6 separate regions of the Homo sapiens genome follow, and all the other regions are reported to be linked to region 1. Evidence: microRNA targets listed by miRTarBase, many of them from high-throughput screens and not tested one by one. Region 1 holds a microRNA gene; each other region holds the end of a gene's coding sequence.

Evidence for each region. Region 1 holds the annotated microRNA hsa-miR-4424 (AGAGUUAACUCAAAAUGGACUA, at 2,697-2,718, shown strand). A microRNA usually pairs through its seed, bases 2 to 8, with sites in the 3' UTR of a target mRNA and lowers its output. Matches are read on the target gene's strand: a 7mer-m8 pairs with bases 2 to 8, a 7mer-A1 pairs with bases 2 to 7 and ends in A, and an 8mer does both.
Region 2: miRTarBase lists BCL2L11 as a target of hsa-miR-4424. Seed matches in the 3' UTR shown: 7mer-m8 at 3,649-3,655.
Region 3: miRTarBase lists MYBPC1 as a target of hsa-miR-4424. The part of its 3' UTR that is shown has no 7-base or 8-base seed match.
Region 4: the mRNA of NAA40 is a reported target of hsa-miR-4424. Seed matches in the 3' UTR shown: 7mer-m8 at 1,229-1,235.
Region 5: the mRNA of SEC14L3 is a reported target of hsa-miR-4424. The part of its 3' UTR that is shown has no 7-base or 8-base seed match.
Region 6: miRTarBase lists COBLL1 as a target of hsa-miR-4424. The part of its 3' UTR that is shown has no 7-base or 8-base seed match.

The regions. Positions count from the first base shown.
Region 1 is chr1:178,675,067-178,679,174 of GRCh38, forward strand. MIR4424 (microRNA 4424) reads left to right here and starts at 2,683; the gene lies at 2,683-2,768.
Region 2 is chr2:111,163,530-111,167,637 of GRCh38, forward strand. It overlaps BCL2L11 (BCL2 like 11), which reads left to right. Exons shown (of 4, transcript NM_138621.5): 4 at 604-4,108. The coding sequence ends at 702. Among named protein-coding and RNA genes, the nearest start is that of BCL2L11, 45 kb to the left of the region's middle. RefSeq lists enhancers at 2,268-2,768, 4,083-4,108.
Region 3 is chr12:101,683,628-101,687,735 of GRCh38, forward strand. It overlaps MYBPC1 (myosin binding protein C1), which reads left to right. Exons shown (of 32, transcript NM_002465.4): 31 at 755-797; 32 at 1,955-2,401. The coding sequence ends at 778. Among named protein-coding and RNA genes, the nearest start is that of CHPT1, 12 kb to the right of the region's middle.
Region 4 is chr11:63,954,210-63,958,317 of GRCh38, forward strand. It overlaps NAA40 (N-alpha-acetyltransferase 40, NatD catalytic subunit), which reads left to right. Exons shown (of 8, transcript NM_024771.4): 8 at 129-3,110. The coding sequence ends at 270. Among named protein-coding and RNA genes, the nearest start is that of NAA40, 17 kb to the left of the region's middle.
Region 5 is chr22:30,456,374-30,460,373 of GRCh38, forward strand. It overlaps SEC14L3 (SEC14 like lipid binding 3), which reads right to left. Exons shown (of 12, transcript NM_174975.5): 12 at 2,856-3,769. The coding sequence ends at 3,648. Among named protein-coding and RNA genes, the nearest start is that of SEC14L3, 14 kb to the right of the region's middle.
Region 6 is chr2:164,682,429-164,686,536 of GRCh38, forward strand. COBLL1 (cordon-bleu WH2 repeat protein like 1) reads right to left here. Exons shown (of 14, transcript NM_001365672.2): 14 at 1-3,604. The coding sequence ends at 3,518. Among named protein-coding and RNA genes, the nearest start is that of SNORA70F, 3.3 kb to the right of the region's middle.

The sequences.
Region 1 (4,108 bases):
TTAATAGAAATTAAACAACATGCTCTTGAACAACCAGTGGGTCAAAGAAGATTTAAAAAACTGTCTTCAAACCAACAGAAATAGAAACATAACATACCAAACATGGGATGCAACAAAAGCAGTTCTAACAGAGGAATTTATAGAGATAAATACCTAAATTTTAAAAAGAAAGATCTCACAGCCAGGTGCAGTGGCTCATGCCTGTAACCCCAGCAGTTTGGGAGGTCGAGGTGGGCAGATCACTTGAGGTCAGGAGTTCATGGCCAACATGGTGAAACCCCATCCCTACTAAAAATACAAAAATTAGCCAGGCCTGGTGGCAGGCACCCTCAGGAGGCTGAGGCAGGAGAATTCCTTGAAGCCAGGAGGCAGAGGCTGCAGTGAGCTGAGACTGTGCGACTTTACTCTAGCCTGTGCAACAGAGTGAGACTCTGTCTCAAAAAAAAAAAAAGACAAACTAAGCCCAAAGTTAGCAGAAGGGAGAAAAATAACAAAAATTAGAGCAGAAGTAAATGAAATAGAGAACAGAAAGACAATTTAAAAGATCAAAGAAACTAAGAGTTGATTTTTTAAAAAGATAAACAAAATTGACAAACCTTTAGTAAACTAACCAAGAAAAAAAGAAAGATGACTCAAAAAATTACAATCAGAAATGACAAAAGAATAGTTACAACTGATACCACAAAAATACAAAAGATTAGGTGGATTCCACCAAACAGAGAAGAATAAACACCAATTCTTCTAAAACTTTTCTAAAAAAAAAAATCAAGAGGGAGGAACATTTCCAAACTCTTTTTACAAGGCCAGTATTACCCTTGCATCAAAGTTAGATAAGAACACTAAAAGAAAAGAAACTTACAGGCTTATACTGAACACAGATGGAAAAATTCTCAATAAAATTTTTGCAGGCTGAGGCCAGGCACAGTGGCTCACTTGGGGATGCCAAGGTGGGCAGATCACTTGAGGCCAAGAGTTTAGACCAGCCTGGCCAACATAGTGAAACCCGGTCTTTACTGAAAATACAAAAATTGGGCCAGGTGCGGTGACTCCCACCTGTAATCCCAGCACTTTGGGAGGCCGAGGTGGGTGGATCACCTGAAGTCAGGAGTTTGAGACTAGCCTGGCCAATATGGTGAAACCATGTCTCTACTAAAATTAGAAAAGTTAGCTGGGTGTGGTGGTGCACATCTGTAATCCCAGCTACTTGGGAGGCTGAAGCATGAGAATAGCTTGAGCCCAGGAGGCGGAGACTGCAGTGAGCCGAGATTGCATCACTACATTCCAGCCTGGGTGGCAGAGCAAGACTCTGTCTCAAAAAGCAAAACAAAACAAAAATTGGCTGGGCAAGGTGATGTATGCCTGAAGTCCCAGCTACTTGGGAGGTTGAGGCACAAGAATCACTTAAACCCGGGAGGCAGAGGTTGCAGTGAGCTGAGATTGCACAATGGCCCTCCAGCCCGGGTGACAGAGTGAGACTCTGTCTCAAAAAAAAATGTTAAATTAAAAAAATATATATTAACTGGCTGAATTCAACAGCACATTAAAAGGAGCATACACTATGATCAAGTGGAATTTATCCTTGGTATGTACGGATGGTTCAACATACACAAATCAATAAATGTAATAAACCACATTAACAGGATAAAGGTAAAAATCATATGATCATCTCAATTGATGCAGAGAAAGCATTTAACATCCTTTTATGATAAAAATTCTCTACAAATTAGGTATAGAAGGAAGGTACCTCAACATAATAAAGGCCATATATTACAAACACACAGGTAACATCATATTCACTGGTGGAAAACTGATAGCTTCCTTTCTAAGATCAAGAACAAGACAAGGATGCCTACTCTCGCTACTTCTATTTAACATAGTACTGGAAGTTCTAGCCAGAGCAATTAAGCAAGAAAAAGAAGTAACAGCCATCCAAATAGGAAAGGAAGAAGTGAAATTGTCTCTGTTTGCAGATGACATGATCTTATATGTGGCAGACCCTAAAGACTCCTCCAAAACAACTGTTGGAAATAATTTTAAAATTCAGTAAAGTGCCAGGATACAAAATCATCATACAAAAATCAGTTGCATTTCTATACACTAATAACAAACTATCTGAAAAAGAAGAAAACAATCCCATTTACAATAGCATGAGAAAAAATAAAATACTTAAACCAAGGAAGTGAAAGATTTGTACACGGAAAATTATGACATTGATGACAGAAATGAAAGAAGACACAAATAAAATGGAAAGATAGAAATTCTGTGTTCACGGACTGGAAGAATTCATATTGTTAAGATAGCCATACTACCCAAAGTGCTCTACAGATTCAATGCAATCTCAATGAAATTCCAATGACATTTTTCACAGAAATAGAAAAAAACTATCTGAATATTTATGTGGAACCATGAAAGACCCCGAATGGCCAAAGAGAACAAAGGTAGAGGCACACATTTCTTGATTTCAAATAATATTACAAAACTATAGGAATCAACAGTATGGCAATGGCATAAAAACAGACACATAGACCAATAGAGAGCCCAGGAAAAACTACATGCATATATAGTCAACTAATCTTTAATAAAGGCACTAAGAATACATAATAGGGAAAGGATCATCTCTTCAATAAATGGCATGAGGAAAACTGAATATTCTCATGCAAAATAATGAAATTGGACCATTATCTTACATCACACACAGAGTTAACTCAAAATGGACTAATTTTTCCACTAGTTAGTCCATTTCAAGTTAACTCTGTGTGTGATGTAGTCTAGAAACTCTGGAGGCTGAGGTAGGAGAATCACTTGAACCTGGGAGGTGGAGGTTGCAGTGAGCCAAGATCACACCAATGCACTCCAGCCTGGGTGACAGAGCAAGACTCCATCAAAAAAAAAAAAAAAATTACAAAAATTTGTAAGGCATGATGGTGGGAAGCTGAGGTGGGAGGATGGCTTGAGCCTGGGAGAAGGAGGTTGCAGGCCAGGCACAGTGGCTCACACCTATAATCCTAGCACTTTGGGAGACCAAGGTGGGCAGATCACTTGAAGTTAGGAGTTCAAGATCAGCCCAGCCAACATGGTGAAATGATGTTTCTACTAAAAATCCAAAAAAAAAAAAAAGTATCCAGGTATGGTGATGCACACCTGTAATCCTAGCTACTTGGGAGGCTGAGAGGGGAGGATTGCTTGAACCTGGGAGGTGAGGGTTGCAGTGAGCAGAGATCGCGCCATTGCACACTCCAGTCTGAGAGACAGAGAGATACTCTGTTTCAACAAAAAAGAAAGAAAGAAAGTCAAGCTATTGGAGAAACTGGACAGCAGTGTAAGTGTGAAATGTCTTATAGAAGAGTATTGTGTTGGAATGGCCACCATATAAGACCTGAAGAAACAGAAGGATAAGCTGTTGAAGTTCTATGCTTAAAGTGATGAATAGAAGTTATGAAAAATGGAAAAGCATAAAGCTAAAAATGAAGATCTCGATTATGTATTGAAAGAGTGGATCTGTCAGCATTGCAGTGAACACATGCCACTTAATGGTATGCTGATCATGAAACAAGCAAACATCTATCACAGTGAACTGAAAATTGGAGGGAGCTGTGAATATTCAATAGGCTGGTTGCAGAAATTTTTAAAAAGATATGGTATTAAATTTTTGAAGTTTTTTTGTGGTAAAGCATCTGCTCATCACAAAGCAGTAGAGAAATTCATTGATGAATTTGTCAAGGTCATCACTGATGAAAATCTGATGCCAGAACAAGCTTGTAATTGTCTAAGTACATTTTGTGTTGCTATAAAGGAATGCCTGAGGCTGGGGAATTTACAAAGTAAAGAGGTTTATTTGGCTCATGGGTCTTCAGGCTGCACAAAAAATACGGTGCCAGCATCTGCTTCTGGTGAGGCCCTCAGATTGCTTCCACTCATAGTGGAAAGTGAAGCGAGAGCCATCTTGTGCAGAAATCACATGGCAAGAGAAGAAGCAGGGGTTGGGGAGGTCCCAGGCTCTTTTTAACAATCAGCTCTCTCTAATAGAGTGAGAACCCACTCATGCCTCCTCCCCTCAGGGAAGCCATGAATCTATTTACCAGGGATCTGCAAACCCCCGCCCCACACT
Region 2 (4,108 bases), not on the chromosome of region 1:
ACTTTTTTATGTTCTGGATTGCTCTTTCCTTCCCATACCGAGAAGGTGGGAGGATGGGGGTTGACATTGCCTGTGTCTGTGACCATGGGCACCCCTCTGGGTCACGGTGTTTATCATAGCCAAGCAGCCAGAGGCACAATGGCGCATCACTGCGAGACTTTATTTAGCTTCTTAGGGCAGATTACTCCAAATCACTGGTTTTTCAAATAAATTACAGCTACCAGAAATTCACCCCTGGGGGAATCTGCAGCATATTTGAATGTCAGTTAACTTGGGTGGTAAGATAGTTGCTTTACATCCTCTTTGAGTTTTTCAAACATTTTTTTGAGTGCTTTTTTTTTTTTTTTTTTTTTTCCTATTTTAAGGAGTAAATCATTGGTATGCCTGCCCTTTTTGTAGGGATGTCTTCCCCTTTGCAGGGAAATGAAAACAAGTTTTCTTCACAATCTCTGGGAGGCATCGTGCTTTGTGACACAGTGCTCTTGAAGAGGTGCCTTTCATGGTGATTAAGATGGGATTGGTTGTTCACTTAAATATGGGCTCCCACCCCTCCCCACCCCCAAATTAGGGAGAAACTAAGAAGCTTTCCTTTTGTTGTTTCAGGTATTTTTGAATAATTACCAAGCAGCCGAAGACCACCCACGAATGGTTATCTTACGACTGTTACGTTACATTGTCCGCCTGGTGTGGAGAATGCATTGACAGGTTCTTTGCGGAGCCGAGATACCATGCAGACATTTTGCTTGTTCAAACCAACAAGACCCAGCACCGCGGTCTCCTGGTGCCATTATTATGCAGCCAGCGGTTCTCTTGTGGAGGGGGCAGGTGACGTTTCAGAAGACACCGAGCTGGATGGGACTACCTTTCTGTTCATCACCACACAGCAGAATTTCTAATGGAAGTTTGTTGTGAATGTAAAGGAGGGAGCATTCTTTGCTTTTTAATATACAAACCATGGTTTTTTGGAGCAGGATTTTGTGTAAGAATGGTGTTTACATGCAGTGTGTTTTCCCCCTCACCTTCAATAAGGTTTTTCAAAAAGGAAATGGAAACTTTTTAACCAATTTGTGAATAACTTTTGTATTAAAATTTTAAGAACCTACGGCCTATTCTCAGAGGATTATGTAACCCCTGCAGTGGAAACTGAGCCAGCTAACTTAAAAAGCTGCCTTAGTTTATTTTTAGAGATTACAGAATTTTTAAACAGGGAGACGTGTGATATACTCCCTCCCTTCCCTACTATTGCCTCTCTGACCTTTTTAAATTATTTTTAATACCAAAAGAGTTCTTTTGAAATGGAACTGATTAAAAGGGCAGAGGGTCTGTTGCCAGCCTGCATTGATATACCAGTCCCATTTGTAAATATTTACGTACCTTTATAAATTCAGTTGCATCTGTGGCAAAATTTCAGACTATTTTTGCGTCTTTCCTCATCACTTTTTGTGATGCAACTCCAGTCTGGACTCAGATGCATAGATTTGGTCCAGTGTATTTTCATGATAAAGTGAAATTGAGTCAGAACAAGAGTTAATATCTGCCTGTATCTTGCACAGTTCGAGCGATCTGTTATTAACTGGGAAGCATTTGGTGTTGGTTTTCATTCCATTTCGACGAGCATGTTATTGGGAAGTATTCTGAAGAGGCAATAGCAGTAATAACAACAGACTTAAGTGCTACGCCCCTTTGTGCTGCTGGCTTTTCTGGTTGCAGGCTTTCCCATGGTCACAGGATGCACTGTCAGCATCAGGTCCCAGAGGGCCACCGTGTCCATTACAGCAGAGTCCAGCTGCAGCATCCAGCTCACGCCCTCATGGGAATTGGCACAGGCCTGGGGCAGGGCTTCTGATGGCCATTTGCTTGGCCTCCTGCATTTTAGTCCAACTCACAGTCCACTAGCTTCACTCCTTTAAATTCACTTTGAAACAGGCCTCATCCCACTTCCACCAGCACCATAGAAGAATAATTCTGGGCAGAAGTCTGTTTTTTTTCATTTTTCCAGGACAGTTGGATATTGTCAGGCCACTTGTGACCCCAGCCATGTAGTGAGGGTGCTCTTTCTCTGTGCCTGCTCCTTATGAGTGCAGTGGAAGGAAGCCACACACTGGTCAGTCATTTCAGAGGCAGCAGATGCCCAGGGAGACCCAAGAAAGAGTCAGGTTAGGGAGCAGTGAAAGTGAGGAGGGAAGACAATTCTGTGAACTCTGTAACTCTTAAAATTTTTGAAAACTCCATCGTTAAACAACTTTTAAAAGAAATAACTAAATTTTCAAATGAGTAAGCAGTGCCACCAACTAGTGTTTTGCCCGATAGAAGAGCCAGCATGTTCACGTTATTTAAATTAGGTGGAAAAATCTAAACATTTTTATCTTCATAATTTAAAAAATATATATGTATATATTGCATATTCACTTTTTCCTTTAGGTAGAGATGATTTCAATCCAAATACTCTTACTTTAAAAAATTTCCTTTCCCCAAGAATCTCCTTGGGACTTTGACTTATTTTTAAAGCTGTGTTGGAGCTCATCTTGTTCCCTGATGTGTCTCGAGCCCATTGGTAGGGTCATACAAAGCCCACGGTTACAAGCAGTGGTAGGATTGCAGCCGTGGGCCTGCTGGACACACACATACACCAAAGATGTATTTGGATCTGGGCACCCCCTCCCAGGATCCCTGTACTCACGTGCCAGTCTCCTGACTAGAGCACTTTACTCTGTTTCCTCAGCCCTGCAGCCCCTGGGAGCACACACTGGGTGCAGCCCTGGGCCAGGCACGGGAGGCCCTGCCCTGTGCTGCCCAGGGGCTGTGTGCACCACATGAGCACATTTCCCTCTGGCCTGGCGGCCTCCAGGCTGGCTGTGGAAACAGTTCCTGAGGAAATTAGAGATTCTATGAATTGTAGGAGTATTAAAGACCAGGCTGTTGGCACCAGAACTTAAAGCGATGACTGGATGTCTCTGTACTGTATGTATCTGGTTATCAAGATGCCTCTGTGCAGAAAGTATGCCTCCCGTGGGTATACGTTTTTACCTTTTTTAAAAAACATTTTTGTAGAAAAAATAATTAAATCCCCTTTTTGGAAACTTACTGCAGGTTTTGTGCCTTGACAACCTCTCCCTATGTGAGGTTTGTAAAAAGTGTCCTGTGACTTAACACAGAAACGCAATAAACACACACAAAATAGTTTCATGAGTGATTCTTCAGATGCCCTTCCCAACTGGTTAGTTGATCAAGAATTTTGGGGGTGGGGGTTGCGGAGAAATCAAGTTTAAAATTCCTTCTGATTAAAAAAATATAGTGGAATACAATTGTCTGCCGTTTCCCCTTCTTAATGTATATATTGTGAGTATTTATTAGATTCGTAGGTCATATTACTTATCAACTGAGCCAAATGTCTGTGTGCAATTGTGTTTCCTTTACCTTGTAAAATTTTGTACAGCATAAATAAGTAAAAAAATCACTGTTTTTCTCAACTTTTTCAAAATCAAGGATTGTAAATATTGTAGATTCTTTTTCTGTGTGATGTGTCCTACTGTTTCATAATGCTGTAACTTGTAGAAATATTGTATATTTATTTTCTGCTTATTTAATGTCTTAATTTCTGAAAAGTATTAACATCCCTGTCTCCCACTCCCCTGCCGTCCCATGAAGTTAACTCCTGAGAGTTGTCGGGGGTGACTGGAGAGCTCATTGCAGACCACGTGGTCCTCCAGGGTGGCTCTCCACCTTCGGGTCCTGGTATTTCCAGTCAAGTGGGTTTCAATTCTTGGGCTTTGCCGCCCTTATGATGAAGTGTGTGTTTGATGCCAGTGAGAAACTCAGTCTGGCAGGCTACAAAATTCTACTCCAAGAAATACCCAGCAACCTTCTGTTTGTTCCAAAGCAACTAGCTTATCATGCAAGCAAATTTTGCTGACTCCAGGCTTTATCTTTAGGAAAACAAAAAAACCAAAGTATTATCAGCAGGTGGGAAAGATTTTTCTATTGAAAATTTATCCCTGACAACTCAGCGTTTAGAAAAGAAATAAAATGTGCCACTTCCAGAGGTGCTGCATTGCAGTTGTTCAGGGCTAGGGCCAGGCAGGACAAGTGAATGGGTGGGACAGGTGGC
Region 3 (4,108 bases), not on the chromosome of region 1:
GTACTATCATATATATGTGATTCACCCCCATTTGGAATTGCAAATTAAGAGTTTTTTGCAGCTGGGTATGCAACCTGATAAAAACCCTGATAATGTAGATCTATGCCTGAGTTTACAATATTTGTTTTGTGAGTTTCCAGAGATAATAACAGCTTTCAAAAGAGGAAAAAAGTAAGGTTCTTTTTTGAAAGCTTTGTAGATTGTATATAGAATAGCTTTGTAACATAAGGTTTTGTGTCTATTTAGATCAGTCATATATATTCCATGCAGAATACAATATTATAGAATACACTAGTCTAATATTTGTACTTGATAATTTTGCCTTTTAGAATTTCAACATATATATATGTACACTAACACTTTGTCTATTGTCTATGTTTTTCTTTTGTTGAAAAACACGATATATATATGTTGTAGGGTTTTGGTTTTTGTATTTGTTTTAAGCTAATGGTTTGGAAGCTCTTACCATAGATATTCACTATACAATCAGAATGACTTTGCCACCTATTCAGGCAAAGTAGTTGTGCATATTAATAAATGTTTTACATATTAATGATCCTTTTGACGTGACTGGATCCCCACCCTTCATTTCATGTGCTTCTATTTTCCTACATCTTTTACATGACTAAGGATTAATGAAATCACCTCTTCATAATCATGACCATAATTTCATCCAACAAGTACTCAAGTTTGGTGTTAGCACTTTATTAATGCTTACGACTTCTCTCTCTCTCCCTCTTTCTCTTTTCCTTAGTCATTGCACAATAAGGATTTTTGAATGTATAATATCATCTAAGGTAAGCTTTCATATGGTTTTGGCATATGAAGCTTATGACTGTCATAAGCCATACCAAGCCTGTGGAGTATGGCATGATTTTCATTACATAATCCAATGAAAATAGACTTATTTTAAATCCCTAACTTTGTAGTTTTAATTTGTATTTCACTATCTTGAAATTAACAGCTAGTACTTATCCATCACAGCAGTCTCCTACTGACATGAAGCAAGTTGTTGAATGCAGTAGAGCATGAATGAAAGCATTTAATGTAGACAAAAATGGGTGATACCCAAGCATTCTGAATTATTTGCATCAAGGAATGGACATGTACATAAGTGGCATCATTTCTACCAATATGTGACTTGAGTTGTTTTTTTAAAAAAAGGAGAATGACTTTCTCAAATTTGCATTAAAGAAGTTTTTAAGAATGTTCAAATGGCATGCTGCTTTGTCTGGACGTGAATTTATTAGCAAGTAGTAAAGCACTTCACTAAAGGACCATGAATTTTTGTGGTTTCATGGATTCTCTCTTGAAGGGTACTTTTATTTTTTTAATATAATTCAGAAACTCAGAAGGTAGGTATGAAATATTGGTAGGTGTTTCTCGCACCTTCAGAAAGTATTGGACCGGTCTTATTATTATAATTTTAACAAAATATTTCCAATTTTTGTGCTTTTGACATGCATAAATGACCAAAGTTAAAGGGAGTAGTTTTTATCTTTTCTAATGTGCTTGAATCGAAACTCTCTGTGCCTAATTAAAAAGAACATTAACAAACTGGAAGCAGATCTTCCCACTGATCCATAATGTGGTATGCATTTATTCTGCTGTTCAGTCAGAACATTTAAATCATCTATGAGGAATCACAAAACCTCTCAAAGAGCAATAAATACTTTCCAACCACTTGGGAATTTAAATGAAGATTGAACAATAGTAGGGGAAAAACTGCTGTGGTTCTACTGGGAACTTGCTTTTCCTTCTAGATGCCAAGTGCTTTAAATTCTAAATGTACTAAATCCAGGAGAAGATTTTCCAAGTAGAGACTGAATGAATCTTTGTAACTAATGGGAACATGATTAGTCACATTTCCAGGCAGCTAGTCAAGAAGTATTGTTTCAGCGATTTTTCAGGTAGATGGTTTTGATTTGTCTGTTTTCCTTTTGGTCCTCTCTAGGTGGGCTCTCCTTCTGCAGACTCCTCTTGCAAGGCGTACCTCCAAACATAATTGATTCGTATCTGCGAGACTTACACTCAAGCAATCCTGAGGAATACTGAGGGAGGGCCTGGCTACTGTCTCTCTGCACTCTGCTGCTTTGAAATCTGGTTGAAATGAGAAAAAGCATTTTCTGTTTTCCCACCAGGCCCCCAAGTGTGGTCTTTTTCTTTCCTCCTAATGTTGAAGAGAAAAAAAAAAAAAAAAGTTTGCCCAGATTGCTTAATTAAAAATTGCAAACAAAATCTCATTTGAAGTCAGCACTTTGGTCATTATTATCTCTGCTCACTGTATTATACTTTACAAAAATGCAAGTCATAGAATAAGCAAAAGCAGTTATTTTTGTTTACATAGTAGGCTATAAATGCTTTTTTTTTCCTCTCAGAGTAAAAAACATAACACAATGCACCACGACTGGATCTTGAAAACCCATCTTTCTCTTGATCTAGTAGATTTTTCTAACCAAAGCGGAGTTGTTGATGTCATACAGGCCTGCTTCACACCAGGATCTGTGCCTTTTTCTTCTTATTTGAATGCAATAAAACATTTTTAAAAGTCTAACTTTCAAACAAATTTTCTCAGTAGAAGGGATGGTACAACAAATCTGAAGTGTTTGTGATGAAATGATACAATATGCATTCATGCATTTAGGGTTGTATGCCGAGACACAAAACTGAGGCTAAAGGCTGGGAGCCAGCATGCCCCTGAACCCAGGTCTGCCCTCCCTGTGTCTCTAGCAAGGCATCTTGGCCAAATCTGCCAGAGCTTCTGCCAAAACAGCTAGTCATAGTGACAGAGGGCTGTTACAGACAACAGACCTATTACAGAGTTAGGGTTTGCTGATGGTATCCATTCAATTTGATGGAAACCTTTATTAAAAAATCTAGCAGCTGAGAAACATTTATACTAACCCATAATATTTTCAGCAACTTCCTTTACTCTTCCTGATATAAAGTTTCAGTTAAGGGAGTAGAATCGAACTGTAAGGTACCACAGCATTACTGTTTATTCCCTCGCCTCCCCTCTGTTTTTCTTTTTGGTCTTTTGTTGCAGGAGCTAAATATATTGTGACTTGTTGGTGGGCCCATGGCTTCTTTGGATGACATTTTAAACATATCTGCTCTTTTTTCTTTCCAGATTTTAGCTGGGAAGTTCTATGGTGGTCATGGATCTGGGTTGATGTTGGGCTCGTAAAGGGAAGGGTGAATGATTCAGGTCGTTGCAGTACATTTGAGAACAAAAGAAAGTCTAGTTTATGTCCAAACTATGTTGGCTCTATATATCTCTGTTGAAATTGGTTGGTGATGTTGCCTTACTGGTTGTTAAGAACATTGGCTATCACCCCTGCTCCTATGCTCCCAAAAACTCCAGAATAATATTGTGTGCAATCCCTGTGTAAACACCAATTTTATTTTATTTTATTTTTATTGCTATAACCCATTGTTTTTATATATATATATATTTTTATTATACTCTAAGTTCTAGGGTACATGTGCGCAACGTGCAGGTTTGTTGCATACGTATACATGTGCCATGTTGGTGTGCTGCACCCATTAACTCATCATTTACATTAGGTATATCGCCTAATGCTATCCCTCCCCGCTCCCCCCACCCCACAACAGGCCCTGGTGTGTGATGTTCCCCTTCCTGTGTCCAAGTGTTCTCATTGTTCAGCTCCCACCTATGAGTGAGAACATGCGGTGTTTGTTTTTTTGTCCTTGCAATAGTTTGCTGAGAATGATGGTTTCCAGCTTCATCCATGTCCCTACAAATGACATGAACTCATCATTTTTTATGGCTGCATAGTATTCCATGGTGTATATGTGCCACATTTTCTTAATCCAGTCTATCATTGTTGGGCGTTCCAAGTCTTTGCTATTGTGAGTAGTGCCGCAATAAACATACGTGGTAAACTCCAATTTTAATCAAGAAAGCTACGTGCACAGTATTGGTTAAGGTATTTTAACATAAAGGAAGTCTGGCTCATCTATAAAGACATGAAAACCTTATGTCTATGTACAAACCAAAGAAATGACAATGTGGCAAACCCAGTCAACGTGGTCCCTGCAGCCCAGCTGCTGGGTCTTAGCCATAGTGCAGCAGCCGAGCTGGCTG
Region 4 (4,108 bases), not on the chromosome of region 1:
TCCACTGTCCACCTCCTGCACCCTCATCCTAAGGGTCTCATCAGTGTGGCTGGTAGAAGAGTTCTCGGGCCAGGGAGGAAGGCACTCAGCTGCCTGCCACCAACCCTTTTCTCCTGCCTGCCTTGCAGATTTGAAATTGATGACTCTTCCCCCAGCATGTCCGGTTGCTGTGGGGAGGATTGCTCCTATGAGATCCTGAGCCGGAGGACCAAGTTTGGGGACAGCCATCACTCCCACGCGGGTGGGCACTGTGGTGGCTGCTGCCACTGAACTCTCAGAGCCACTTTCAAGTCACAATGCTCTCTCCTAAGGCCTTTCCTCTTTCCTGGTCTCACTGTTCACCGGGTGTCCTCAGAGCTGTGGCCTCCCCAGCCCTGCACGTGCCAGGCTGCGCCCTGAGAGCACAGAACCCTGGGGAGAAGTGGTATCAGCTGCTCCTCCTCTCCTAGGAGACCAGAGTGCTAGAAGGGAATGAAAGGGAGAGGGAAGAGTAGGTGGGGCCGGGCAGTGAAGCTCATCCTCCACAGTGGCTGCCTCCTCATTTGGCTCCTGGGGCCTGCAGTGGAGGTTCTCGCACCTCTGCAGCCCCTAGATTCCTGGCAACCTCCCCTCCCCTGACACATACACACTTGGACAAATGGAATGTTTATGTCCACCTTTATGAAAGTTCTGGAGTCCTGGGTCTGGGGTTTGCTGGTCCCCAAAGAGGAACACACTGGGTGTAAGATCTGGGTGTAGAGGGCGGCTTCAGAGAGACTCACGCTTGCGCAGTTGGAATTGCTGTTAACGGAGACTGGGAAGATCTTTTGTGCCAAGATGCAGGGAAATGAAGAAAGCTCTTTCCAGCTGTTTTTATGGATTCATGGAGTGGGCTCATGTTGGGACCAGCTGACTCTGGGAGGAAGACTGCCTCTCCATCGCTGTCAGAGAGCCTGAAAGGACCAACAATGAGGTGTTCTTGGGACCCGCCATGGGGATGATTGCTTCTCTAGGCTCCTGGATGTTGCTGCATTCTAAGCTTAACCTCCTGGTCTCATGGCAGTGACTTGAGCTTTTGATTCATAGAAGAAAGCCAGAGGTTCTGCTTGTTCTTGTCTGCCAGCCCTCGTCGTTCTTTCTCCTCTGCCTCTCACCTCTACCCCAAATACCTCTGTTCTTAGTCTCAAGGGGAGAATAACATCAGGGAGCCCCTCATCTTCCCCAGAAGGACTTCTCGTTCCTCATGTAGTTAACTCCATTGATTTTCCTATCTTGGTGCTGATAGCTCTCTAAGGGTAGGGCACACCTCCCCACAGCCACCCTCCCTCTTCAGAGAGCCCCCAGCCAGCAGCAGGCCCCTCTGCCTGCACTCCTCAGGCTTGCCCCTCGCTGCCTCAGTGAGGCACTAGTGCCACTGCCGTGGCCCAGCCGGGCCATAGCTCAGGCTGCAGCAGAAATGCCTCTCAGTGGCCAACAGTTGCTTTTCTCTCTGGTGTCACCCTGTGGCAACAGGCTGGAGCAGGGGAAGGAGAAAGCCTTCCTCTTCTCTCATAGGATAGAAAGGCAGGCTCAGAACTAATGCTCATCCTGATCTCTAGGCCTTGTTCCTCTTCCAGGGAAGAAAAGCCAAATCCTTATCAAGGAAAAAGCACCTAACAGCTCCCTTTGGATATCCCTGAGCTCTGCTGTGGGGAGTATCATAAAGGTTCTAGCCTTCGTGAAGTTGTTCTCGTGGAGGTCTGTTGGTCCCTCTGACCTCAGCATCTGCTCACATCCCACCCTCTGCCCAACTCTGGCAGTCTCTCCTGGCAGATCTCCCCAGAGTGGTCCTTGCTTCTCACCTGGATTCCTGCTTGTGCAGGAGCCTGTGTACACAGGGCCTCCCTCACCCAGCCTGGCCCCTCTGCTGAGCACTTTGCGCTGCTCTTGATGGGCAGCAGTGGGACTGGGAACTCCTTAGAGAGGGCCTTGCAGCTTTACACTGGAATAAGTCTGCCTCTGCCTCTGCCTCACCCTGCTGGCTCCTGGTGGGTTTCATCCCAGGCAGAGTTGACATTGCTGGAGGGGTTTGGTGGACTCCTAAGAATCATGAAACCACAGGAGCATGTTTAGGAAGAGATTTGTCTCTGGTCCCTGTCTCTGAAAGGACACAGATGCTAAATATTTATTGTCTTAGATCATGGATTCCTGATACCTCTCACTCAAGGGGACCAAAAGGGACCCCCCCGTGTTCATCCCTTGTAAGGTGAGTTCAGTCTACGTTGTCTCTTTCCAGTCACTGGATACGTGGCACCAACTGGTCAATGGGTGCTTGGTGCCATACCCTGCTCACCCTAGTCTCTGCAGGCCATGTCCTGAAGGGTTCCTCAGGAGGTCGGGACTAGGGTGGGAGAGGCACTATCTGAGACCTGCAATCACTCTTGTTGGTCTTGAGCCCATTCATTTCCAAAACATCCATCTTTCTCCACTTCCCCCAGGTCTTGGTTTTGAGAAACAGCAGGCATGGCTGAGTGCGGTGGCTTACACCTGTAATCCCAGCACTTTGGGAGGCTGAGGCAGGCGGGTCACCTGAGGTCAGGAGTTCAAGACCAGCCTGGTCAACATGGCAAAAGCCCATCTCTACTAAAAAATACAAAAATCAGCCAGGCGTGGTTGTGGCCTGTAATCCCAGCTACTCGGGAGGCTGAGGCAGGAGACTCGCTTGAACCCAGGAGGTGGAGGTTGTGGTGAGCTGAGATCACGCCATTGCACTCCAGCCTAGGCGACAGAGTGAGACTCCATCTCAAAAAAAAAAAAAAGAGAAACATAGCAGGCCTTTTTTACCAGGCTTTTTGTGTTTTGTTTGTTTGTTTGGAGCATGTTAAGATTTTTTTAAGATTTTTAAAATTTTAGTTATATCCACCCTATTTCAGGTTATTTTTGTTGGTGTCAAGTATGTATAGGACATGTGAATGGTTCTTTTTAATTTTTTTTTAAGAGGAAATTTGGAAGATAAACTCCTTGATATATATATATATATATATATTTTTTTTTTTCTTTAGCAGCTTGTTATCACTGGAATCAAAGGGAAAAAGTGATCTCTTCTTGCATTGGTTGTATTTGTATGTCACAAATAAAAGACACTTTGGTCAGCTGCTGAGATGGCTTCCTGATGCTGGGGCACCATGGGCAGCGTGGATCTGGGAAGCTCTGGACCCTGAGCCTGTCCCAACATTGGGCCCGAACATCAGGAGGTGCATAGCTATGATAGCCCCATGCTGGAGAAAAAACTCAGGCTGTCCGGGGCAAGCAGCCAGAGCTGGGAACAGAGACCAAATGTATGTGTTTGTGCCACTTCCCAGGAGTTCTGAGTAGAGGCCAAAGGTGTTCTGAAGGGCGCCTGCTTTGCATCTTGGAGAGAAAGTCCCAAGCCAGGCCTTGTGACATTTGAAATCTGTGTCCAAACGTAAATTCCAGTGCCCATGTGTGGGAGGTGAATAGACGAGAGTGCTTCTTTCCTCTTTGACTTCATTGGGTTACTCAAAATATTCTTTGTCTCTTAAGATTCCTGCCCTCTTCCATCCATTCACAGAAGACAAGGCTCCAAGGAAGGGGAGCTCATGTCAGGGCTGCTGGGGCAGGAGAGTTATGAGCTGGTGGAGGCTGTGACCCCCTAGTGTGACAGATGGAGCTGTGCAGGTTGTTCCCCAAGCAGGGCTCCTGCCAGCCCTGGCCCGGGGGAGCTGGAGCTCAGTACTTTCTGTGGACAGTGGAGGGGCTGCCCCATTGTACTCTGCTTGGTGGTCTGCATCTGCTGGAACGGGGAGCAGGAGACCCTGATCCACATGGAGTGTTCGTGCCCTGGCAGAGCAAGCATCTGGGGAAAGAGGAGCCAGGGTTATACCTGTTCCGTGGGTCCCAGCTGTGGCATGTTGTGGCCTCTCCCCTGTGGGCAGGGGCACACCCGCAGGTGGTTTGTGCAGCTGTCTTATCTTTGAGGCCCAAAGAAAGGCAGCACAGCCCTTGGGAAGGGAGAGCAATTTGCCTGGCGAATCACATGGCCAGTTTCCCATGTGACAGAATTCTGCCCCTCAAGTTATTTGTTCCTTGAAGGCTGTGTTTTCATCCCAGGCAGAAACTTCCTGGAATG
Region 5 (4,000 bases), not on the chromosome of region 1:
GAGGTTTACTTGGCTCATTGTTCTGCAGGATGTACAGAAAGCATGGTGCCGGCATCTGCTCAGCTTCTGGTGAGGGCTTCAGGAAGCGTTTACTCATAGCAGAAGAGGAAGGGGAGCCAGCGTGTCACATGGTGAGAGGAAGGGAGCAAGAAGAGGGGAGGGGTGCCAGCCTCTTTTAAGCAATTGTAGAATAAGAACTCACTCATTATGGCGGGCAGGCACCAAGCCATTCATGAAGGATCTACCGCCATGACCCAAACACCTCCCACTAGGCCCCACCTCCAACATCGGGGGCCACATTTCCTCCTGAGATTTGGAGGGGACAAATATCCAAACTCTATTAGTGACCATTGGCCAAAGCTACAAAGTGGGTCTCTTTCCTTCCCCAATGCTGCCTCCTGGAGATTCAGGACTGGAGCTGAGCATCTAGACCCTGAGTAAGACTGGAGGCTAGAAGCTGGAGCTTGGGAAGCCTGCCTCTTACTGGCTGTGTGCACACAGTGGGAGCTGGCTTGCCAGGGGTGGGCATCAGCGGATGCTGATGGGCACTTTGCAGATCTCAGCTCTGGCCCTGGCCTTAGGTTCTTTGCACTGCTCCACCTCCTGGTGCAAGTCCCCTCCACTCAGCTGCCACAGAGGAGCTCTGGCAACAGCACTGCTCATCTTAGTCCCAAAGGCACAAAGGGTCCACACTCTCTACCTCAGACCCTGCTTCAACATCGAGGCCTTTCCTTTGGTGGTCAAGGGTGAGACCACCCTGTCCCCCGACCCTGCATCACCCACACTAAGCCATCCTCTCCCAAGGATTCCATGACATCATTGGCCCAAATTGTGGGTGCTGCCACCGTCTTCCAAGAAGGTGAACCCATCCCCCTCTTTCCATCCTCCTCCCTTTCCTCTCTCTTCCCTCCATCTTCCCTCATTGGTAGGATTGTCAGATAAAATATAAGATGCATAGGTCAATTTTAATTTTAGATAAACAATGGATACATTTTAAGTATGTCTTTTTTTTTTTTTTTTTTTTTTTTAGATGGAGTCTTGCTCTGTTGCTCAGGCTGGAGTGCAGTGGTGTGATCTCAGCCCACTGCAATCTCCACCTCCTGGATTCAAGAGATTCTCATGCCTCAGCCTTCTGAGGAGCTGAGATTACAGGTATGTGCTACCTCCCCAGGCTAAATTTTGTATTTTTAGTAGAGACGGGGTTTCACCACATTGGCCAAGCTGGTCTCGAACTCCTGACGTCAAGTGATCCGCCTGCCTTGGCCTCCTAAAGTGTTGGGATTATAGGCATGAGCCACTGCACCTGGCCATGCTTTTTTTTTTTTTTCCTTTCTAAATCTGACAACCCTCATTTTCTCTTCTCTTCCTTCCTTTTTCCTTTCTCCTTCCTCCTCCCTCCTCCTTCCCTGCCAGCTCAGGAAGAAGGCAGTCTTGTCCCATTCTGACAAATTGTTATAGAAGAGTGGTGGGGGTGAAGAGGTGACGGGGTAAGGGGCAGCCTTAGCTCCAGGACTATTTCTGTCACCTGTAGGCTGAAGATACAAGGCCAGTGCCTTTGGGAGCTCAGTTTCCCATCTATAAAGCAGATATCAGATTTTGCACCCATAAGTGCATGTGGGAAAGTGCTTGCTGCTGCTGAATATTTGCTTGACTAGCCTGAGTCAGACCTCATAGCCTGCCCACGGATGAGCTCAGCCCTCCGTTTGTTTGTTTCCAAGGAGCCTCTCATGGCACCAGCCTTTGGTTCCCATTCATCCCCATTCCCGGGTGTGATCCGGCTCCCCTGGCAAGAGTTGTGTCAGGGACTGGGGCTCAAGCCAGCCTCTTCACGTCCCCGAATCACAGCAGAAAGTTGGGAAGGAAACTCTGGAGTCCTGGCCTTTGCCCTAGTCACCCAGGGTCATGGTGAGCGTCAGGGGGTTGTGCTTCACAGATGCCATGTGAGCAGCGGACAGGATGCTGAGCTGAGGAACACAAGCCCTGCCCCACTCTGCTGTGAATTTCCTTGGACAAGCTGCTTCAGTATTGTGGGTCTCTATGGCCTATCACCTCCTCTACCCACAAACAGGGACTGGAGAGGGTGACATGCAGGACACTTCTACTGGAAGGTCTAGAACAAATAAATCATGCCTTCTCACTGCCTTTGTAAAAGTGGAATCTTAGGAGGTCATATTCTTACTATATTAAATTTTTTTGATAGAGATGTGGTCTTACTATGTTGCCCAGGCTGGTCTAAAACTCCTGGGCTCAAGCGATCCGCCCATCTCAGCCTCCCCAAGGGCTGGGATTATAGGCAGGAGGCGGTATTACAAGGCAACTGAGAGCAATGTCATTGGAGTAAACAAAGCAAAAACAGGCCAGGCATGGTGGCTGAGGCCTGTTATCCCAGCACTTTGGGAGGCTGATGGGGGGTAAATCACTTGAGGCCAGGAGCTTGAGACAACATGGGGAAACCCCATCTCTACAAAAAAATACAAAAAAATTAGCCAAGTGTGGTGATGCCCACCTGTAGTCCCAGCTACTCAGGAGGCTGAGGTGGGAGAATGGCTTGAGCCCAAGAGGTCAAGACTGCAGTGAGCCATGATTGTACCACTGCACTCCAGCCTGGGTGGGCGACAGAGCGAGACCCTGTCTCAAAAAACAAACAAACAAACAAATAAACAAACAAACGAACACCCCCTGCCCCAGGTCCTGGATCTGCCACCCAAGCTGTAAGATGTTGAGTGAGTAGCTTCACCCCTCTGAGCCTCCATTTCCTTATCCATAAAGGGCCTTGGGGATGGCATGAGAATAAAACATGCTAAACTCACAAAGCTCTTGGCACAGTTTCTGGTACACAGAGAGCACTCGCCAAATGATAGTTGTTTTCTTTATTATGATTATGCCAGATGTGACTGCCTTTGCTTCCAGGAAAGTCCCTAAAACATAAGCTATGTGCAACAAGGGAAGTGGGTTAGGGTGGGAAGCTGAGCGTGCAAGTCAGACAAAGCCTGATGTAGGCAGCTCCTATCAGAGGCATGTGGCCTTTGTGGCTGGGGCCCTCAAAAGACAGCCACTGCCAGAAATCTGGAGACTGAATTGTCTGGGTCTCCAGAAGAGAGTCCAACCCCACCACACATCTGCTCCTGTCCAAGGTGCTGAAATCCACCCCACATAGGCTCCTCCTAATCATGTACAGCTGTTGAGTCACCTGCACCCTACCTTCTGGTCCTCCATTCAATGCCACAAATATACACTGAGCATCTACTATATATAGGGAGTGGAAGTAAAAAGGATTTAGATATGTCTCCAACCCAAGTTGCTCACAGCCATACGGAAGGAATTCAAGCATACACACCTGCCTTAGGGTAGGTGAGGACAAAGGCTAGGGGATTCATTTTGCTATTTATTGAGTTTCATGACACCCACTTCTTGCCTTTACCCTTGCTTTTTCCTCTTCTGCAACCTTGGTACCCTCCAAGGTTGTGCCTCTCATACCTTTCTTGATCTGACCACAGTAGATGAGTTTTCCCCAGGGCATCTCTTTCTGTACTCACTAACGTCACAGAGTCAGGAGGACTAACAATCAATTTCAGGGAGGGAGGGAGTGTAGGATATAAACAGAGAAATCAAAGGGTTAGGAGGTCTCTGAGAAATGAGGGAGCCACCTAGACAGGGGTGAGCTCCTTATCATATTTCTGCATGCCCTCGTCAGGGAGCAGGACCTCCACTGTGAAGCTGACCTTCTTGGCGTGGACAAAGCTATAGGTGTTGTCGAAGCGTAGGACATCTGGGGGACAGATGGAAAGAGGGGCATTGGGCTTGGCTTTACACACTCTTTTTTCCACCCCTGGCCATGGAGGAGGACAGGCTTGTGTTCCCACTGGCTTTGTTTGCCAAGCTGGGCCAAGCTCCCACCACGCCTCTTCCCTTCCCCATGGGAACTGCCAACCCAAGCAGGTCCTGTAAACAGACACCAACCTCCTCTTGGCATGTGCCCAGGCATGGCTTTACTGGCATC
Region 6 (4,108 bases), not on the chromosome of region 1:
TAATTGTATCAATTGGGACGCTTTGGGTTTTAAGCACCTATAAGTAACTAAGTCTCAGGACAAAGATTGGTCTCATTTCAAGGACTTGGATAAGATGACAGAGTGTGTATGCTGTTGCCAGTGCCTAGTGGCCAAGGCCAGATCTGGCAGTTCATGAAGAGGTGAAATCGGAAGAAGGGTCACTCCTCAAAGAATAGGGAGTATATTAGGCAAATAATACCTGTTCACTTATAGTATTGACATCAGGTAACTTTAAAAGATGAATTGCCTGCCGTTTTTAAAATAAGGTTCATTTTTATTCATATTAATTCATTTTTCAGAAGAGAAAATGAAGCATAGAGAAAGTAATTTGCCCAAGATCCCATGACTCATAAGTGGCAGACTTGTGATCTGAACCCCAATCTCTTCACTCCAGCCAACATTATGTACCGCAGCAAGAAACAATAGAATGGCTAACAGAAATACGATCGATCTGTATGTGTAAAAAGAAAAGCTCTTCCAGAACACTGCTGGTATAAAAGGCAAGTTGTTACATAGTATTAGAGTGTGACCTCCTTTCATGTTAAGAAACACACATACACACACACACACACACACACACACACACACACAAAAGCCCCCAACAAACCTGCACACATGTACTTCATATAAATACATCTATATAGGGCTTCATATCAAAATATTAACAGCTATCTTTGGAGAGGAGAGTGGGATGCTGGGGATGAAAAAGAATGTATTTTATACTCTATCATATATATGTAATCTGAATTATAATTTTAATATTATATAAATAAATAACTTGATTGGAGGAAAGAAGGAAAAGCAAAATGCCTAGATGCTAAAAATTATACATGAAAGTCAAAAGTTGGTTCTAGACCATTCCTGTATCTTCCTTGTGCTGTTATTTTAGGATATGATGAGTGAAAACTACTTGTCACAAATTTCTTTCCCCATTGACAGGATAGCACATGTTCTCCTAAAATGGTGTCGATAAGGCAACTTTTCAGAACATACATGTATTAATGGTTTATATACATAGCCCCCTAAATCCTATGTGACCTTTAAAACATTATTTTATTATAATTATAAACTACAAGTATACTAGAATTTAGAATATAATAAGCACTTGTTTTCAAACAGCAGTTTATAAAATACTACGAACACAATTGATGCCTCTTATAAATCTCAATTCAGTCTTTCTTGGTTCCCACAGGTAACCACCAGCAAATTTTTTTCCTACATATACAGCCATAATTTATAGTATCATTTTTTATATTTATACTTTATGTAACTAATTTCATAAAACACGACTTGTTCCACCACTCACTCTTGTCACTTGTTTTTGAGATGTATTCATGCTGACATATATAGCTCTAGCTTGTTCATTTGGACTGCTGTGTGGAAGTCTATCATATGAATATATGCATTACTAAAGCTGAGCACGGGTTAGGACCCCTTTCTGCTGTTTTACACAAGGCTGCCGTGAACATTTTTGCAGATGTCTCCTTATGCATGTGCATAAGTACTTATTTAAGGTAACATGGTAAGGAATCTTTAATTTTACTAGATATTGCAGAACTGGTAGTTATGCCAGTGTATTTTCCCACCAACAGTAGAGTTCCCACTGTTTGATGTTCCTGACAACACTTGCTATTTTGAAACTTCCGTTTTTGCTAATTTGATGTGGTACCTTTCCATGTTTTTAACTTGTATTTCCCTGATTATCAGTGAAGAGTATTTTTTTTCCATGTTTGTTGGCCTTTTGAATTTCCTCTTGTAAGAATAATGTGCTGATATTTCTATTAGGTAGACTTATCATGAGTTGTAGGAACTTTCATATCTTCATAAATTAAGCCTTTCTTATATATTAATATATTGAAAACATCTTACATGTCGCTTGTCTTTAAGTCTTCAATCCAACTCAAAATATATGAAGGTTTAAATTAGGGATCCAAATTTATATTTTTATAAGTAGATAATTATGACAACACAATTTTTTAAAAAAAATTCACTCCTTTCTCTACTTGCTTATAACAACATAACTTAAGTATCTATATATGAGGGTCTCTCCAACTGATTCAAGGAAAACAGCAGCAACATTTAGCATTTAAGATGGCCATGCCATGTATCAGGAACTATGCTAAACATTTTAAATGCTTAGACCATGCATTTTGGAGTCAGAATGCCAGGGCTTAAATGTACACTAGGGATCCCTGATAAATGGTAAATCTTACAAATTTCTTGTTTGTTCACTGGCTAATAGAAATGTATGCATCAGGTAAGGGAAATAAATATGCTGGTTGACACAAACTATATATTTTAAAAAGCACCCCAAATATACAACTTGCTTTTATTAAATTGAAAAAAAAATCCCCAAGAGGCAGATATCCCAGTAGTTTTAGTGAAAACAAATTTAATATCATCTTGTTTGAACAAAGCTTTCAGAATAAGTGAGCAATTAAATTCTTAAAGTAGGGACAGAACACCAACAGGCTCTAGACTCCGGAAGAGCTGTAAGCCGACAAATGGGCATTGTTTTGCTTAACAGTTTTAGCTTCAATGTAAATATATATTATTACTTAGAATATTAGCATCTGAACTATATAATGACTATTTTATCATTTTACTTGAATTAAAACCAGAATTTCTGGAACTTCCAAATAGTCTTTAAAGTTTTTCAATATAAACATAAACTAACCCCTATTCCTCTCTACATATCAAATGTGAAATAACTGTCACAATATATCAGCATTTTCACAGAAAGATGTTTAAGGCTTCTGGCACATAAAATGTGTAATTTCTGTGTGACAATGTCATAATTATATACAGAAAATATTTAAAATTCTTGTAGAATTTAAGTTCTAAAGATTAAAAAAACAAGAGTTCCATGTTAATAAAATATTAAAATACTATGAGCTTCCCATAAAATTGACAGTGATTTGTAATTACATAAAGAATACACAAGGCAAGTCTTTCACACTAAGTGATTCATCATTGAAAATAATTATTGAACTGAATATACTTATTTGGTATCACTAGTTTTCTAAATCATTCTTTCAGCCCAAAACAGGCTTTCATATAACTTATAAATATTTCCAATTGCTACACTGAGGCAGCAAATGTCATATCTATGTTTGTCCTAGTTGTATGTCATACAAATATAAAGTCTATGAATCTTATACTTTTGTCTAAGTCACCATTGTAGAGAATGTGCTGGTAAGTGAAATCAATACAAAGGAATTATTTTTCATTTGTAAAAAATGAAAATCATTTACACCTTGTTTTAAAGTTCTAAAGCAGCATATTCAACTCTTAAGGCAAAAAAAAGATCAAAAAATTACTATAAATTATAAATTCTGGTAACTTTTCTTCTGGCATTAAAAGCCACAACACAAATTCTAATATTTTAATAGATAATATATTAGTGTACATCTGAATATACATTTGCCAAAATGTTCCATTAGTATGAAGTTGGTCTGAAGTGGAAGTGAAGTGCAGTGGTGTGGCAGGGTAACATTTAATGGCCGTCCTGGGCATCAGGGGACATGGAATGGCTGAGTCTTGACCTTCCATTCACAGATATTGTATTTGATGGAATGGTAACCTAAGAGAAAGAAACACACTTTGCACCCATCAATTTAAAATGGGATAGCTGTCTAATTTTCAATTTTCAACAGTTACCACATTTTAACTTCTGCTTAATTGTAAATGATAAGTATCTATTATTCAATAAATTATAATCAAGAATAAATGTTCATTCTACCATAAAATTTAAAAAGAGAGAGTCGTTATTTTCACAACAAATAAGATAAATAATCCATTAACACATCTTAATCTGTACAGAATTACCAAATCAACACAAAGGACAAGAGCACAAACAGACTGCAAACCAAGCTGTTAAAGAGCATTTTTAGCTAGATTAATTCTGTAATTCTGGCTCCCCAAAACTGCCTCTGAGAATGTAGAAAGATAAAGTGAATTCCACAAAGCAATGAATTTTACAAGTTTTGTACTGATGGTATAAATTAACGTGAAATCCCCCTCCCAATGGCCCCCTATTTATTCAAAACAAAAAAACTAGCCCTTGGTTTTAAAAATGCTTTCATAT